Homo sapiens: one gene and its partners. The protein of the gene in region 2 interacts with the protein of the main gene of each other region in a biochemical or structural test. Each region holds a gene or a part of one and is shown on either strand. Other genes may lie near its edges.

What was found. The genes of interacting proteins can lie anywhere in the genome.
Region 1: the proteins of RTKN (region 2) and ARHGAP21 interact in a test that uses a peptide from one of them, tested with the Homo sapiens proteins (one large-scale study listed by IntAct).
Region 3: the proteins of RTKN (region 2) and DLG5 interact in a test that uses a peptide from one of them, tested with the Homo sapiens proteins (one large-scale study listed by IntAct).
Region 4: the proteins of RTKN (region 2) and RADIL interact in a test that uses a peptide from one of them, tested with the Homo sapiens proteins (one large-scale study listed by IntAct).

Annotation. Positions count from the first base shown.
Region 1 is NC_000010.11:24,583,114-24,585,500, forward strand, and holds the end of ARHGAP21 (rho GTPase-activating protein 21), read right to left. Parts: coding exon 1,299-2,387; 3' UTR 501-1,298; downstream 1-500. UniProt on the Homo sapiens protein: Functions as a GTPase-activating protein (GAP) for RHOA and CDC42. Downstream partner of ARF1 which may control Golgi apparatus structure and function. Also required for CTNNA1 recruitment to adherens junctions.
Region 2 is NC_000002.12:74,428,637-74,431,937, reverse strand, and holds part of RTKN (rhotekin), read left to right. Parts: intron 1-1,260; coding exon 1,261-1,322; intron 1,323-1,419; coding exon 1,420-1,473; intron 1,474-1,568; coding exon 1,569-1,686; intron 1,687-1,900; coding exon 1,901-2,110; intron 2,111-2,995; coding exon 2,996-3,090; intron 3,091-3,200; coding exon 3,201-3,301. UniProt on the Homo sapiens protein: Mediates Rho signaling to activate NF-kappa-B and may confer increased resistance to apoptosis to cells in gastric tumorigenesis. May play a novel role in the organization of septin structures.
Region 3 is NC_000010.11:77,794,256-77,797,755, reverse strand, and holds part of DLG5 (disks large homolog 5), read left to right. Parts: intron 1-1,161; coding exon 1,162-1,305; intron 1,306-1,567; coding exon 1,568-1,695; intron 1,696-2,797; coding exon 2,798-2,907; intron 2,908-3,500. UniProt on the Homo sapiens protein: Acts as a regulator of the Hippo signaling pathway.
Region 4 is NC_000007.14:4,831,717-4,835,216, forward strand, and holds part of RADIL (ras-associating and dilute domain-containing protein), read right to left. Parts: coding exon 2,891-3,500; intron 463-2,890; coding exon 425-462; intron 1-424. UniProt on the Homo sapiens protein: Downstream effector of Rap required for cell adhesion and migration of neural crest precursors during development.

The DNA of each region.
Region 1 (2,387 bases), on a different chromosome or scaffold from region 2:
TAACAGTCTGAGATTTTTTTGTAACCATTACTTCCAACAATAGCTTTGTTCTATTTTGAAACTAGTGTGTGGCAGGCACTGTAAGTGGAACAGTATCTCATTTAAATCTAATCACCCTTATAATAGGTAGTGTTACTGTAACTAACTGTTTATATGAGAAAACAAATTCAGAGAAGTTAAATAATGTGTTCAAGTTCACATACCTAGGTAGAGCTGGACTGACTCCAAACTCATGTTCGTTTCACTCACGAAAAGAACATTAACATAACATACATTACTTTACCTAGAAGAGTTAAACACTATCAGTCAACAAGTGAGGTTAGGCTAATGTAAGCATCTGTAAGAAAGAGTCTCTACCCACCACAGCAAGAAAGAGGAGAAGATGGAATGTATAAATATAGTAGGCACCTTTTTAAAGTCAGGACCAATTAATCATGTAAGGTAGTTATAAATGGATGACATCTAAAAATATATCAGAATAAGTTTCAAGCCATGCAAAATTCACCAAAACAATTTTTATTTCCAGTGTTTAATTGGGTATGCACACAGGCATGACACAGGTTTGGATTCATTAAGTCCTCATGCAGAATTATATTCTTCTCGATAAAGAAGCCAGTTCCATCCAGGATCCACTATCTACACACCTATGTTACAACATTATATCAAATCTGGTATCTGAAGAAAAGATACACATTTAATATGTTCATTTAAGTTACGTATTTTACAGAAAGATTAAAAATTCAAGTCACACAAAACTCAAAAACTGTATTAAAAGTTTGAATATAAAACTCAGATCCACCTGGAATGACTAAAGAATGGAAGTTCTGTATCCACCTGTGTTAAAACTGGTAAATGTAATGATATCTGTTACCAATAAAACGCATTCGTTTATTCAATGTAAGTAAGTTATCTAATTTTAACAATATGGCACCCTAAAAACCAACTGTATTTTTATGATGAGGCACTTTTGTTAGTGATGAAACCAAAAGAACAAATTTGCTGCACACTGATGCCAGCGATTTTCTTCAGTGATTTTGGGTATATGCTATGTAGTAAGTTGCAACAAATACCTTGCTCATTTGTATACAACTATCCGATATATTTTTAAATATATATATATATATATATGTTCTTCTGGCTGTAGTAATGCACTGTAAAGCTATTTCACAGTGCAAAATGATGAAACCAGCCCAAATGAAGGCTGCATAATAACAATTCTGATACAAGAAAATATTGACAGAGTTACTGGAACGTGTAACAGTAGTTTTTTTACTTGCTAGAGTGGACATACCCCCAGTTTAAAGACAGGGATGAAACTCTGCTTTACTGCCTGGGGTTTCAGACAGTTTATGAGGTTGGGCATTCGCTGCAGAACTAGCATTTTTGCTCACGTTCTGGAAGCTTTCTCCGTTTATTTGGTCAGGTGACTGTGGTGGTATGGAAAGAAGGGGCCTGTTTGTTGAAGCCAAGGTGCTGGAAGAACTGCCTGTGTTGCAATGAAGAGACAAAGGTGTGTCGGTCGTGGCTATTTCTCGTGTGCTTGGGTTCTCTGTCTGGGGATCTCCGATTTCTCCTCTGCTAAGGTCAGAGGTACTGGTGCGTAGGCGTTCCCTGGCCAGCCAGTCTGAGATGGAAAGGTCCTGGGCTGAGCATTTTGGTTTTAACCGGTTTACAGCTGAAAGTTCAGATTCTCTCTCCCCGCTCTGCTCATGCACTTTCCAAAAATTCAAAACGCTGATTTCGGTAGCATCTCTGTGCCCTCCTAGTGTATGTCTGCGCCGGATGCTTTTCCTTTTAGCAGTCTCGGCATTCACTTTGTGATTCCCTACTCCAAACATGTCATCCGCAGGGGCTCTGGGTCTCAGTTTTAACCGATCTGCTATTTTCGTTTTCCATGTGGGTTCCTGTTTTTCGGATTCGCCTCTGGTGGGTGTCAGTAAACTCCCAGTTGACTTTCCTTTTTTCATAACATCAAACACTTTAGTTAACGAAGGTGCTTCTTTCTCATTCTTGGCATCTCCTAGACTTCCACTATCTGACTTGAATCTAGCTGATTTTTTCCTGGAAAGAGTATCACATTCGATGAGTTTATGGGAACTGAAGAGCTGTCTCCGGCTATCTAAACTTGATGTTAAACTTCCCTCGGTGCAACTTAATTCACTTCCTTCAGAATTTCTCCGGCTGCTCTTAGTCACTTCTTGCAGTTTTCCTCGGAAAAGCCTCTCTGAAGTCAAGGCTGTGGGGAACACGGGAAACTCGCTCTCGCTGTCGGTTTCCACAGGCCGCCCTTCACTGATGAGTTCGCTTCTCTCGTCATCTGCCTCGTCCCCCTTGCTCTCTGCCACGGATTGCACCTCAGGGCTCAGTCGACTGGAGTCCAGGCTAGT
Region 2 (3,301 bases):
TAGACTGTTGATCTGACAAGTCTATAATGACTTAAGTGATGCCATGATAAAACCAAAATATTGGGGAAAATATTTGGCAAATTATTCTAAGAATATGCCAATTTGGATAAAGTGGTCATTTGGAGAACTGGTTTTTAGGAAAGTGGCCTACTTACTCCACTGAGGCTGCTAGGGGAAATAGTCCCAGCCCCTCACAGGTATGGTGCCCATTCCAGCCATGAAGGCTGACACAAGAGGAGGTTGCCAGGAGCTCACCCATGAAGCTACCAGAAGAAGGCAGAAAACCCACTGTATGGCTATCCCATGAAGCTAGAGGAAGGGCAAGCTGGTGGGGGGACAGCCTCTGAGAGGCAGCATGGACAGACTCTGTCCTGCCAAAGTCCTCACACAGCCCACACAGGTGATTTGAGGTACACCCCAAGTGCCTGGCAGCTAAACACATTGCCATTAGTGCCACATCATTTAGCTTAAGGCTCTACTAAGTCAGTAATTACTTTAGTGGCATTATGAGTAAGTACAGATGAACTGGCAGTCGCTTCAGGAAAGGGACACATGGTGAGTCCTGATGATGGGCAGGGAGGGAAGGAAGGTGGGGTGTCGGGCCCTGCAGTGGGGTGTGGGGGAGCTGCAGAACTTGGGGCACTAGTAGGGTACACCATATCAGGCCAGGAGGAAAAAGGAGAAATCAAAGTTGGGGAGTGGTAGGGAAGGAAAAGGGTCTGTAGTGAATGGAACGTAACTCTTCCCTATTGGTGATTTTCCTTTGAACAAATGTTGGCCAAATTATTTTCTGACCCAGTACCCTCCTATATCAAAGAAGTGATGGGATGGTGGGAAATAAGCAGCTTTCCTATTGTTAAAAAAAAAAAAAATAAAGACTGGAGACCCCTCTAAGCCAGGGGTTTAATGGAGAGCCCTGGAAATGAAGTCTTTCTGTGGGCACCTGTCCCCTCAAGGCTGCACCTGTCCTTGGCAGGGATCTGGAGAGGTGGTCAGGGAGGTTGCTTGGAGAGAGGAGCCCTGAGCTTGTGCCTTATGTGTGAGTTAATGTGGCTTGAGTGTCCCTGGTGTCCCCAAGCCTGGCAAACTGCTGGGTTCAATGAACAACTTTCCCTTATAGTCCCTCAGCCCTGCCTGTCGGCCTGGCTGGGAACCTGGTGGCTGAGGCGCTGGGATCAGGGGGATCCTAGAGTCGTTGGGACCAGAGCAAGGGGGAATAGTGGCTAGAGGCCAGGCCAGGACATTGTGATTTATCCACAGGCCTTCTGACAGTGGCCCGCCCGCTGAGCGCTCCCCCTGCCGCGGCCGGGTCTGCATCTCTGGTAAGAAGCACAGCTACCCCAGCTGCTGGTACCCCTTGCCCAAGCACACGGCCTCCTGCCCCATCTCAACATCTATTCTTACCCCTCTGCCCCTTAGACCTCCGGATTCCACTCATGTGGAAGGACACAGAATATTTCAAGAACAAAGGTGGTGAGTTCCACACACCCTGGGACAAATTCAGGGGAATGACCCTGAAGTAGGAGGCTCTCGTGGGACGTGTTTTTTGTTTTGCCCTTTGTCCCCAGACTTGCACCGCTGGGCTGTGTTCCTGCTGCTGCAGCTGGGGGAACACATCCAGGACACAGAGATGATCCTAGTGGACAGGACCCTCACAGACATCTCCTTTCAGAGCAATGTGCTCTTGTGAGTACCTCACACTGTGGCTACCTCCTTCCTCCACTCTGCTCCAGTTCTGGATGAGCGAGTTCCAGGGGAGGAAGCTGGGATGGGGGCAGGGTGGAGAGGAGGGGCACCTGGCCTTCTCTGTGGAGCTGTCCTGCACTTGCCTCACCCACATCCCCTACCCTCTGCCTCCCTGGACTTTCCTGTGACCACCCTCCTTTCTTCCTCCCACCAGCGCTGAGGCGGGGCCAGACTTTGAACTGCGGTTAGAGCTGTATGGGGCCTGTGTGGAAGAAGAGGGGGCCCTGACTGGCGGCCCCAAGAGGCTTGCCACCAAACTCAGCAGCTCCCTGGGCCGCTCCTCAGGGAGGCGTGTCCGGGCATCGCTGGACAGTGCTGGGGGTTCAGGGAGCAGTCCCATCTTGCTCCCCACCCCAGTTGTTGGGTAAGGCCTTGCACACCGACACCACCCTCAGCTGCCTGTATTCTGCCCACAGGTGACCTTTGAACTGTGTTGAGTGTGCAGAACCCATTTTGCATTGCTGCCAGGATGTGCAGACAGATATGAATGAGCAGTGGCCACGTAGCTGGGAGGCATTCCAGCCCACGCCCCAGAGCTGGGCTGAAGCCAGTCCAGAAGACCAGTGGGAAGGCAGGGAGACTTAGGCCCTGGGGTCTTACCTTTTTAGCAGCAGCAAATACATTTTATTTTTAGAGACAGGGTCTCACTATGTTGCCCAGGCTAGTCTCGAACTCCTGGGCTCAAGTGATCCTCCCGCCTCGGCCTCCCAAAGTGGTAGGATTACAGGCGTGAGCCACAGCACTCAGCCTAGCAAATACATTTTATGTGGATAGAGCAGAGCTTCTTGGTTGGAGCAGAGTACCCTGGGACCTATGGTGGTACCTAAATGCACCTGGAGACACCGCATGGGACCACTGAGACTCTGAGAAGCAGTTTGAGAACCTTTGGGTAGTGAACAGAATACTGATTTTGGACATAGATATGGGTTCAAATTCAAACTCCCCCACTTTCCACCTATAAATTATGGGCAAGTTTCTTAACCTCTCTAAGCCTCAAGCTGCCTCATCTAGTTGAAGAATGCCACCAACCTCACAGGGCTGTCATAGGAATACAGTGGGATAAAACATATAAAGCATACGTCCTGACACTTAGCTGGAGCTCGGTAAATGTTCATTCCTAACCCTCTGGGGAGGCAAGCGAGTTTTCTGTGGGGCAGTCTGAACAATGGGGCAGATCTGCTCAGCCCTTAGAGTTCCTGCTGGCCAACATGCCCCTCCCTTGGCTGATGCTCTCTCCTATCTCCCTCAGTGGTCCTCGTTACCACCTCTTGGCTCACACCACACTCACCCTGGCAGCAGTGCAAGATGGATTCCGCACACATGACCTCACCCTTGCCAGTCATGGTAAGTATGTGTGTGCATGGGGGACATACACATGTGATGGTGAGAAGAGGGGCTGTGGGATGGTCCCCTTCTCATTCCCCTACCTCACCCTGCACTTCCTCCTCCCCCAGAGGAGAACCCTGCCTGGCTGCCCCTTTATGGTAGCGTGTGTTGCCGTCTGGCAGCTCAGCCTCTCTGCATGACTCAGCCCACTGCAAGTGGTACCCTCAGG
Region 3 (3,500 bases), on a different chromosome or scaffold from region 2:
CCTGGTCCCTGTGCCTGCTCTGCAGTCACTCCTTGTTCTGCATATGCGTACAGATCCCTCCAGGCCAAGCCTCTCATGGACCCTTCCTCCCAAGCCTGCAGTCATCTTGTGCTCTGCCCTCCCCATCATCTCCATACTCATCCTCTTGCCCTGCTCTTTCTGGAGACTCTCATCCCACTTCCCTCCTGGGCCTGCCCAAGTGGTCTTTTCACCCTGTCATCCAGCCACAGTGTCTACTGAAGCCCGCCGCTCCTGGAATTGCCAGGCAGCTCTTGCGTGCTCTCTTGCTGTTCATGTGTTGCTCTGTTGTGACTCTAGTTAAAGTGTGTGCTTTTTAATGGCAGGAACTCTGTGTTCTATTCTTTATTATGTTTCTGAGATTCCAGCACAGTGACTTATACCAGGGAGACGCCAGGAAGATCTTGCTGGGTTTTAGACTGTGTCTCCCTGCAAGGACTTTATTCATTTGGTGCAAGGGGAGGTTTACTGCATGTATCAACTAGGATATTGGTTTGACTGCTTTAACTGAAACCAAATAACAGTGGCTTAAGCATAATGGGCAGTTTATTTCTCTGTCATGTACAAGTCTGAGCTGTGGTTGATGTGGGAGAGGCATTGCGTTCTGAGGATCATCCAGGACCCAGGTCCCTTCCATCTTGTGCCTCTGCCATTTCTTAAGGGTTATCCTCAACTGCATGGCCAGAGCTGGCTCACAGCACTCACCTGTTCTAGCCGTGCAGATTGGGGAGGCCTCACCTGTCACTGGGCAGGTCTGGGTTACACTGACCACACCTTCCTGGGGAGTGGGAGCTTTACCTGCCAAACCCCAGAGGCTGCCTTGCCAGAGAGCAGAGGAGAATGGAGATGGGGCAGGGGAAGCAGGCGTCGACCCACGAGGAAAAATCAGAGCAGAAGGAAGCTCTGGGATGAGTGGTTGAGACCAGCTGCCTCTGGTGTTCACAGAGGGCATGGGGGGTGCTCATGCTGGACTCCAGGGGTGACGATGCCCGGTTGTGCCTGGGACACGAGATTTTCAGTGCTGAAGCTGGGGGAGTCCCAGGCAAACCAGAGTGGGCGAGGTCAGGGAGCGGGGTTCCCCAGCCCCACTCAGGTCCTCCACTCCAAGCTGGGTCCGTGACGCTGCTGCTCTCTCTCCCTCAGATTCGGTGAGCCTGGCCTATCAGCGGGTCCAGAAGGTGGACTGCACCGCTCTGAGGCCTGTCCTGATTCTGGGGCCTTTGCTGGACGTGGTGAAGGAGATGCTGGTGAATGAGGCTCCTGGCAAGTTCTGCAGATGTCCCCTTGGTAAGGGGCACGGGGCACCCTCTGTGCCTACTGGGCTCTTTGTCTCTATGTCCCTGTCCACCTGCCTGCCCAGCTGTGCACAGTGGGTGGCAGTACCGGGGGGCAGATTTCACAGTGTTCCAGAAGCCTGCTGACATGGGTCAGATTCATGCATGGCAGGACTGGGTTACTGACAGCTGCTGAGCAGTGTTCTTCCCCTGCTCCCTCTGCTGGGGCTCAGCAGGGCCTGGGGCTCCCTGATTCCTGTGTCTGTGCATTGCAGAGGTGATGAAGGCCTCCCAGCAGGCCATTGAGCGGGGTGTCAAAGATTGCCTGTTTGTCGACTATAAGCGGAGAAGCGGCCATTTCGATGTGACCACTGTGGCGTCAATAAAGGAGATCACAGAAAAGGTACCCAGGGCTTCAGTCTGAGGATTAGGCATCCAGTATTAGACCTCCTGTGCACAGGTCTAGGCCCCTGGTCCGTGATCCTCTGCCCCAGCGGCTCAGACCTTCAGTGAGCCCACCGTGTTGTGTTAGTCTGAGTTCACCTGTGCCTGGGCTTGCCCTCATGGCTGCTGTGTGTTTCTGCAAGCACATCCCTTGGTGGGGATGGAGGAGTTCCCCTGTGTATGTGCCGCCCCATCTTCCTCTCTGGCAGGTGCGGGGGGTCTCATCTCTGATGAGAGTATTGAGCTCTGCGGAAAGGCCTCTCGCAGGGCATTCCGGAACGGGGTCCCCAAATGCATGTGCCGAACAATTTCACATGCACCTTCTGGGGACAGGAACGTGCCTTCCCTCAGGGTCCCTGCCCCTAAAAGGGCTATGACTCTCGGTGCCTTCGAACATCCTAGGCAGCACGAGGGCGGGGACGTCTGTGGGGAGTGCTGGTGGGGCAAACACTCGGAGTCCAAGGACACAGCCGCTCCTTGGGCTCCATTTCTCCAGGCTGCTCAGCTCGCTCGCTGGGCTTTGCTTCCCTTCTCTGTTAGATGAAGGTGTTGGCTTCTCACTGCTGAAAGTGGGCAAACTCTACTTGGGGGAATGCCCCAGTGGAGCATCTGGGGGTCGGGAGTGCACGGGCCTGCACTCCACCTGGATGCCTGGGACGACAGACATGACAGACATATTTCAGTCTCAGCCACACAAAGGCTCACCAGACTCTGGCTCTTCATTCGCTCAGTCTGGCAAAAATAAGGCTTCAGAGGCCAGGGTGGGGCAGGGCTTTCAGAAGGTCCCTGTATCTGGGCAAAGGCGGGAAAGGAAGTTTGGAGTTGGGCTGGCCAGCACCCCTAGCCCCCTAAGCCCTGGCTCCCAGCCTTGGCCTTCCTCACAGCAAGTGGGGTTTGTTGGGAGTTTCGTGGGTATGGTTTCCCCACGGTGTACTGTGTGGCTTTACTGCCTTGTTTGTGGGTAGAGCCCTGTGAGGTGAGGTGGGTCCTGCTGGTGGCAGGACAGGGGGCTGGCTGCCCCTCACTGCCCGCCAGGGCTCACTCTGCACCCCCCACCCCAGAACCGACACTGCCTCCTGGACATTGCTCCGCACGCTATTGAGCGGCTCCACCACATGCACATCTACCCCATTGTCATCTTCATCCACTACAAGAGCGCCAAGCACATCAAGTAGGTAACTGGCCCCCTGGGCTCCGCTGGGGCCTTGTCACAGGTGGGGCTGGGAGCCCAAGTAGGGAGCAGGGTGTGTTGGGGTGGGGGGTTGAGGAATGAGAGATGGGCCTATGGGTCTTGAAATAGGCAGTACGTGTAGAAAATGACCCTTCCCTGTCGGCCCTGTCCCCTACTCAGAGGTGGTGTCAGCCAAGCGCAGCCCCTTCCTCGCGCCCCTCCGCCATTTGGGTGCTGCCACTGTTTTTTGGGCATGGCCAGCTTGGTCTGCACAGCTCCCCTCTCCTGCCCCAGCCCCCTTTCCTCGCTACGTGCTGCTTAGGAGCAGGGGAGCCAGTGGCCTGGGCACAGTCCCACTCAGCCCCGAGCTGGCTCATGACTCAGGAGCCGTTGCCTTCGCTGAGCTTCGGCTCCTGTGCTGGTTGGGCCAAGGGCTCACCAAGGCCCTGCTCCATTTTGCCTTTCTGTGCTGCTGAGCTTCTGGGACCTGCGCTAGGGGCTGCTGGTGCATCTGTTCCAAGTGTGTGTGCTGGGGGGCCCTCCTTCCCCCATCTGCCCAGAGCTCCCCCGACAGCCTACAGGCTGTTGCTGTG
Region 4 (3,500 bases), on a different chromosome or scaffold from region 2:
TAAAAGTACAAAAAAAAAAAAATTAGCCAGGCATGGTGGTGCACACCTGCAGTCCCAGCTACTCGGGAAGCTGAGGCAAGAGAATCCCTTGAACCTGGGAGGTGTAGGTTGCTGTGAGCAGAGATTGCACCACTGCACTCCAGCCTGGCGATAGAGCAAACAAAACAAAACAAAACAAAAACAAACAAAAAAAGAAGACCTCACCCATCCAGTCTTAAGGGTGCCCTGAAGCAATTTCCCAAAACTCAGAGCTTCCCAGGGTGATGACTAAAGAAGCAAAAAAGGCCGCTGCTTGGATGGAAGGACAAAGCCCAGAGCTGACCCCAAGGCGTGGGGAGACCCCTCGGGACTTGGCTCCCCCGGGAAGTGTGAGCCCCCAGGACCTGCTGCCCAGAGGCGGGCACAATAACCGGGTCATACTCACAGTTGCGCCTGCTTCTCTGCTAGTTCTTTGGTTTTCTCCTACAATTACAAAGCGGGAGAAAAAGCAAGTGAGCAAAACAGGCTAACACAGGGACGCGTTCAAATACACGATACCATCGACAGGAAAACAAGCCATGCTGCCCCAGGCATCCTGTGTGACGCTGACTATTTATTCAAGCTGTGCTGGAAAGGACATTTTCCATGTGACTTCAACATCTTCCCATTCCATTACCGACTATGACCTACAAGTTTGCTACAATAGAGTATCTCACAACTCTCTAGCTTACATAACAACCGGCTATTTAAAAAATAGTAGAGGCTGGGCAAGGTGGCTCACACCTGGAATCCCAGCACTTTGGGAGGCTGAGGCAGGCAGATCACTTAAGGTCAGGAATTCGAGACCAGCCTGGACAACATGGTGAAACCCCATCTCTACTAAAAATACAAAAATTAGCCGGGTGTGGTGGCGCATGCCTATAATCCCAGCTATTTGGGAGGCTGAGGCAGGAGAATCCCTTGAACCTGGGAGGCAGAGGTTGCAGTGAGACGAGATCACGCCACCGCACTACAGCCTGGGTGACAGAGCGAGACTCCGTCTCAGCAAAAAAAAAAAAAAAAAAAAAAGAATTATTCTTGCCTTAGTAGTAAGTTATTATCCGGCTGAATGTAACCGTGATGGCTGAGTGCGCGTAGACTAAGCGTGTATATTTGGTAAGGAATGAGGACGGGGCAGCGGCGACACAGTTGCACATTCTCAGGAAACAAACGCGCAAATGATATTCGCATGGGATCTGGACAGCACCCAGCGGAGGCTTCGGATTCCCACAGTGGGTGCAGGGGGAAGAGGTGGACTCAGGCTCGGTCTCATGTCTATCAGCTCAATCTCTGGACCAGGCAATTCACCTCTGGGAGCCTCTGTTTCAGAGCCTGTAGCATAGGGGCAGGGTGAGCCCTGGTGTGCTGCAGGGAGTGGGCCAGCCACACAGCGAGCCCCAGGTGGCTGGGACACAGGCTGGGACCCGGGTCCCTCAGCAAGTGACTTACGGCCCCCTGGCTTCAGTTTCCCTGGCTGTGACATGGGGTGTGGCATCTACATCGTCAGGGTGGTTGTGATAAAGAAATTAAACAGCGTTTGGTTTGCAAGTAAGTGCCTGGCGCAGAGGAGACTCGGGAAATGACAATGATCGTGCGAAAACCCATGACTTCTGGCCAGCAGGTAACTCTCGGTCACAGTGGCCACGATGTGGACACACACTACAGGGACATCACCTGGCCCTGTGTCCATGACTGCACGGAGGGGACACGGGCACGCTGCAGTGGCACTCCCATCAAATCCCAAGCCGGGAACCCGAGGGGAAGAGGCACGGACACCCAGATTACAACACCCACGGTGCACAGAGACGGCTCCCACTGACATCTGGACAGGGAAGCCTGAGCTGGCTTTTACTTTTTAAAAGTCTCAGACATTTAAAATGTGGATTTCGATATGAGAAAGTGATAAGGTTTCTACACAGTCAAGTGGTTCCCCCTTCCCCTGTCTGCCGGGGATAAGCGGGGCCCAGACTAGCGAGGATCTGAGGGTCTCTGAACGAACTTGAACAACTACGAGTTGTCCTTCGGGTCCCTGGGAGCCAAGTCACTGTGGGGTGGGGCCCAGCGGGGGGCCATGACTGTGTGATGCCTGTTCCAGCACTCATGGGCCCAGGGCGGTCCTGCTCACTGGCGGCCACACTGGATTCCTGGGGACATTGGCAATGCCTGCAGCCATGGGTGTATTGCGTGTGTGTGTGTGGCGGGGCGGCAGAGGGTGACCGGCATCTAGGGGTGGAGGCCGGGGATGCTGCTGAATCCTCTGCAATGCACAGGCCAGCCTCACAGCAAGGAGCTCTCCTGCCACAGTGTCCACAGGGCCGGGGATGAGAGAGGCTGGCCTGGAGGAAAGTTCGTCAACGCACAAAAGGTGACGGGCCCTGCACCTCCAAACTCGGATCAGGGATGGCTCCAGCGGGTATGTGCTCAACCGGCCCCTGGCAGCAAGCACAGGGCGCCGGCACACACAGGGGCTTCTGGGGCTCTTGGGCAGGGGCCTGTGAGAGCTATCAATGTCACCTCGGCCTCGTGGTGCCCAGGCTCAGGGGCAGCTCACTCCTGGCACGTGACAGTGCTGGGCCCAGCTGGACCCCAGGGAGGGTACAAGCCCAGAGCTCAGGAGGTGACCTAGGACCCCACGCAAACCCCACCCTCAGGGGCAAAGGGCTGCAGCTGACACCTTGGGTTCTGGGGCTGCTTCTGGTGGCCTGTGGGGCTGGGGGGCAGCGACAGGCAGGGAAAGGCCGCCCTGCGCTCAGCAGCACAGCACCGTGGGGGTCAGATAGAGGCGCTCCCGCCTCCCAGCCGGGGCCAGCTCCGGGCCCCCTCTTCCCCCAGACCGGCACAGGACCCAGACCGCCCACCCCAGCACACTGACCCAGACAGTCTCGCGGATCAGCCTGGCTATCTTGAGCAGGAGCTGCCCGAATGTGCCCGGCTGGAAGTGGGTGGCCGAGTGCTGGATGCAGAGGCACAGGAGGAAGGCGGGGGTCAGCTTGTGGTCGTCGCCCCCCGGCTCGATCAACGTCATGATCCTCTGCAGCAGCGTGTCCTCCAGGTGGGGCTCAAACTCCAGGAGCAGCTGCTGGCGCCGGGGCAGGGCGGCCTGAGTAGGGGAGGCGGCTCCCCGGGCCCCGAGCGCGGCCCCGCACAGCCGGCAGCTCTGCGGCACAGCCCGGAGGCGCGCCAAGGCCCGGGCGGGCAGGGGCTGGGCCTGCGCGGGGTCCTTGAATAGCAGCAGGTAGTAGAGCCCCAGGGAGAGCAGGTCCCCGTGGTGCAGCACCACGGTCCTGTGCCCCACCTCGGAGAAGTTGACGGAGATGTGCGCCCCGGGGATGGGCTCCAGGACCAGCCTCCCCGCGGCCTGGCCGCTGTCCGGGAGCGGTTGCCGGCGGATGGTGCAGTGTAGAGGCAGGATGTCGGGGGCTGAGAGGCTGATGCTGGGCTTGCTGGAGGGGGTCCGCTGGCCCACCGTGTGCCGGTCCCGG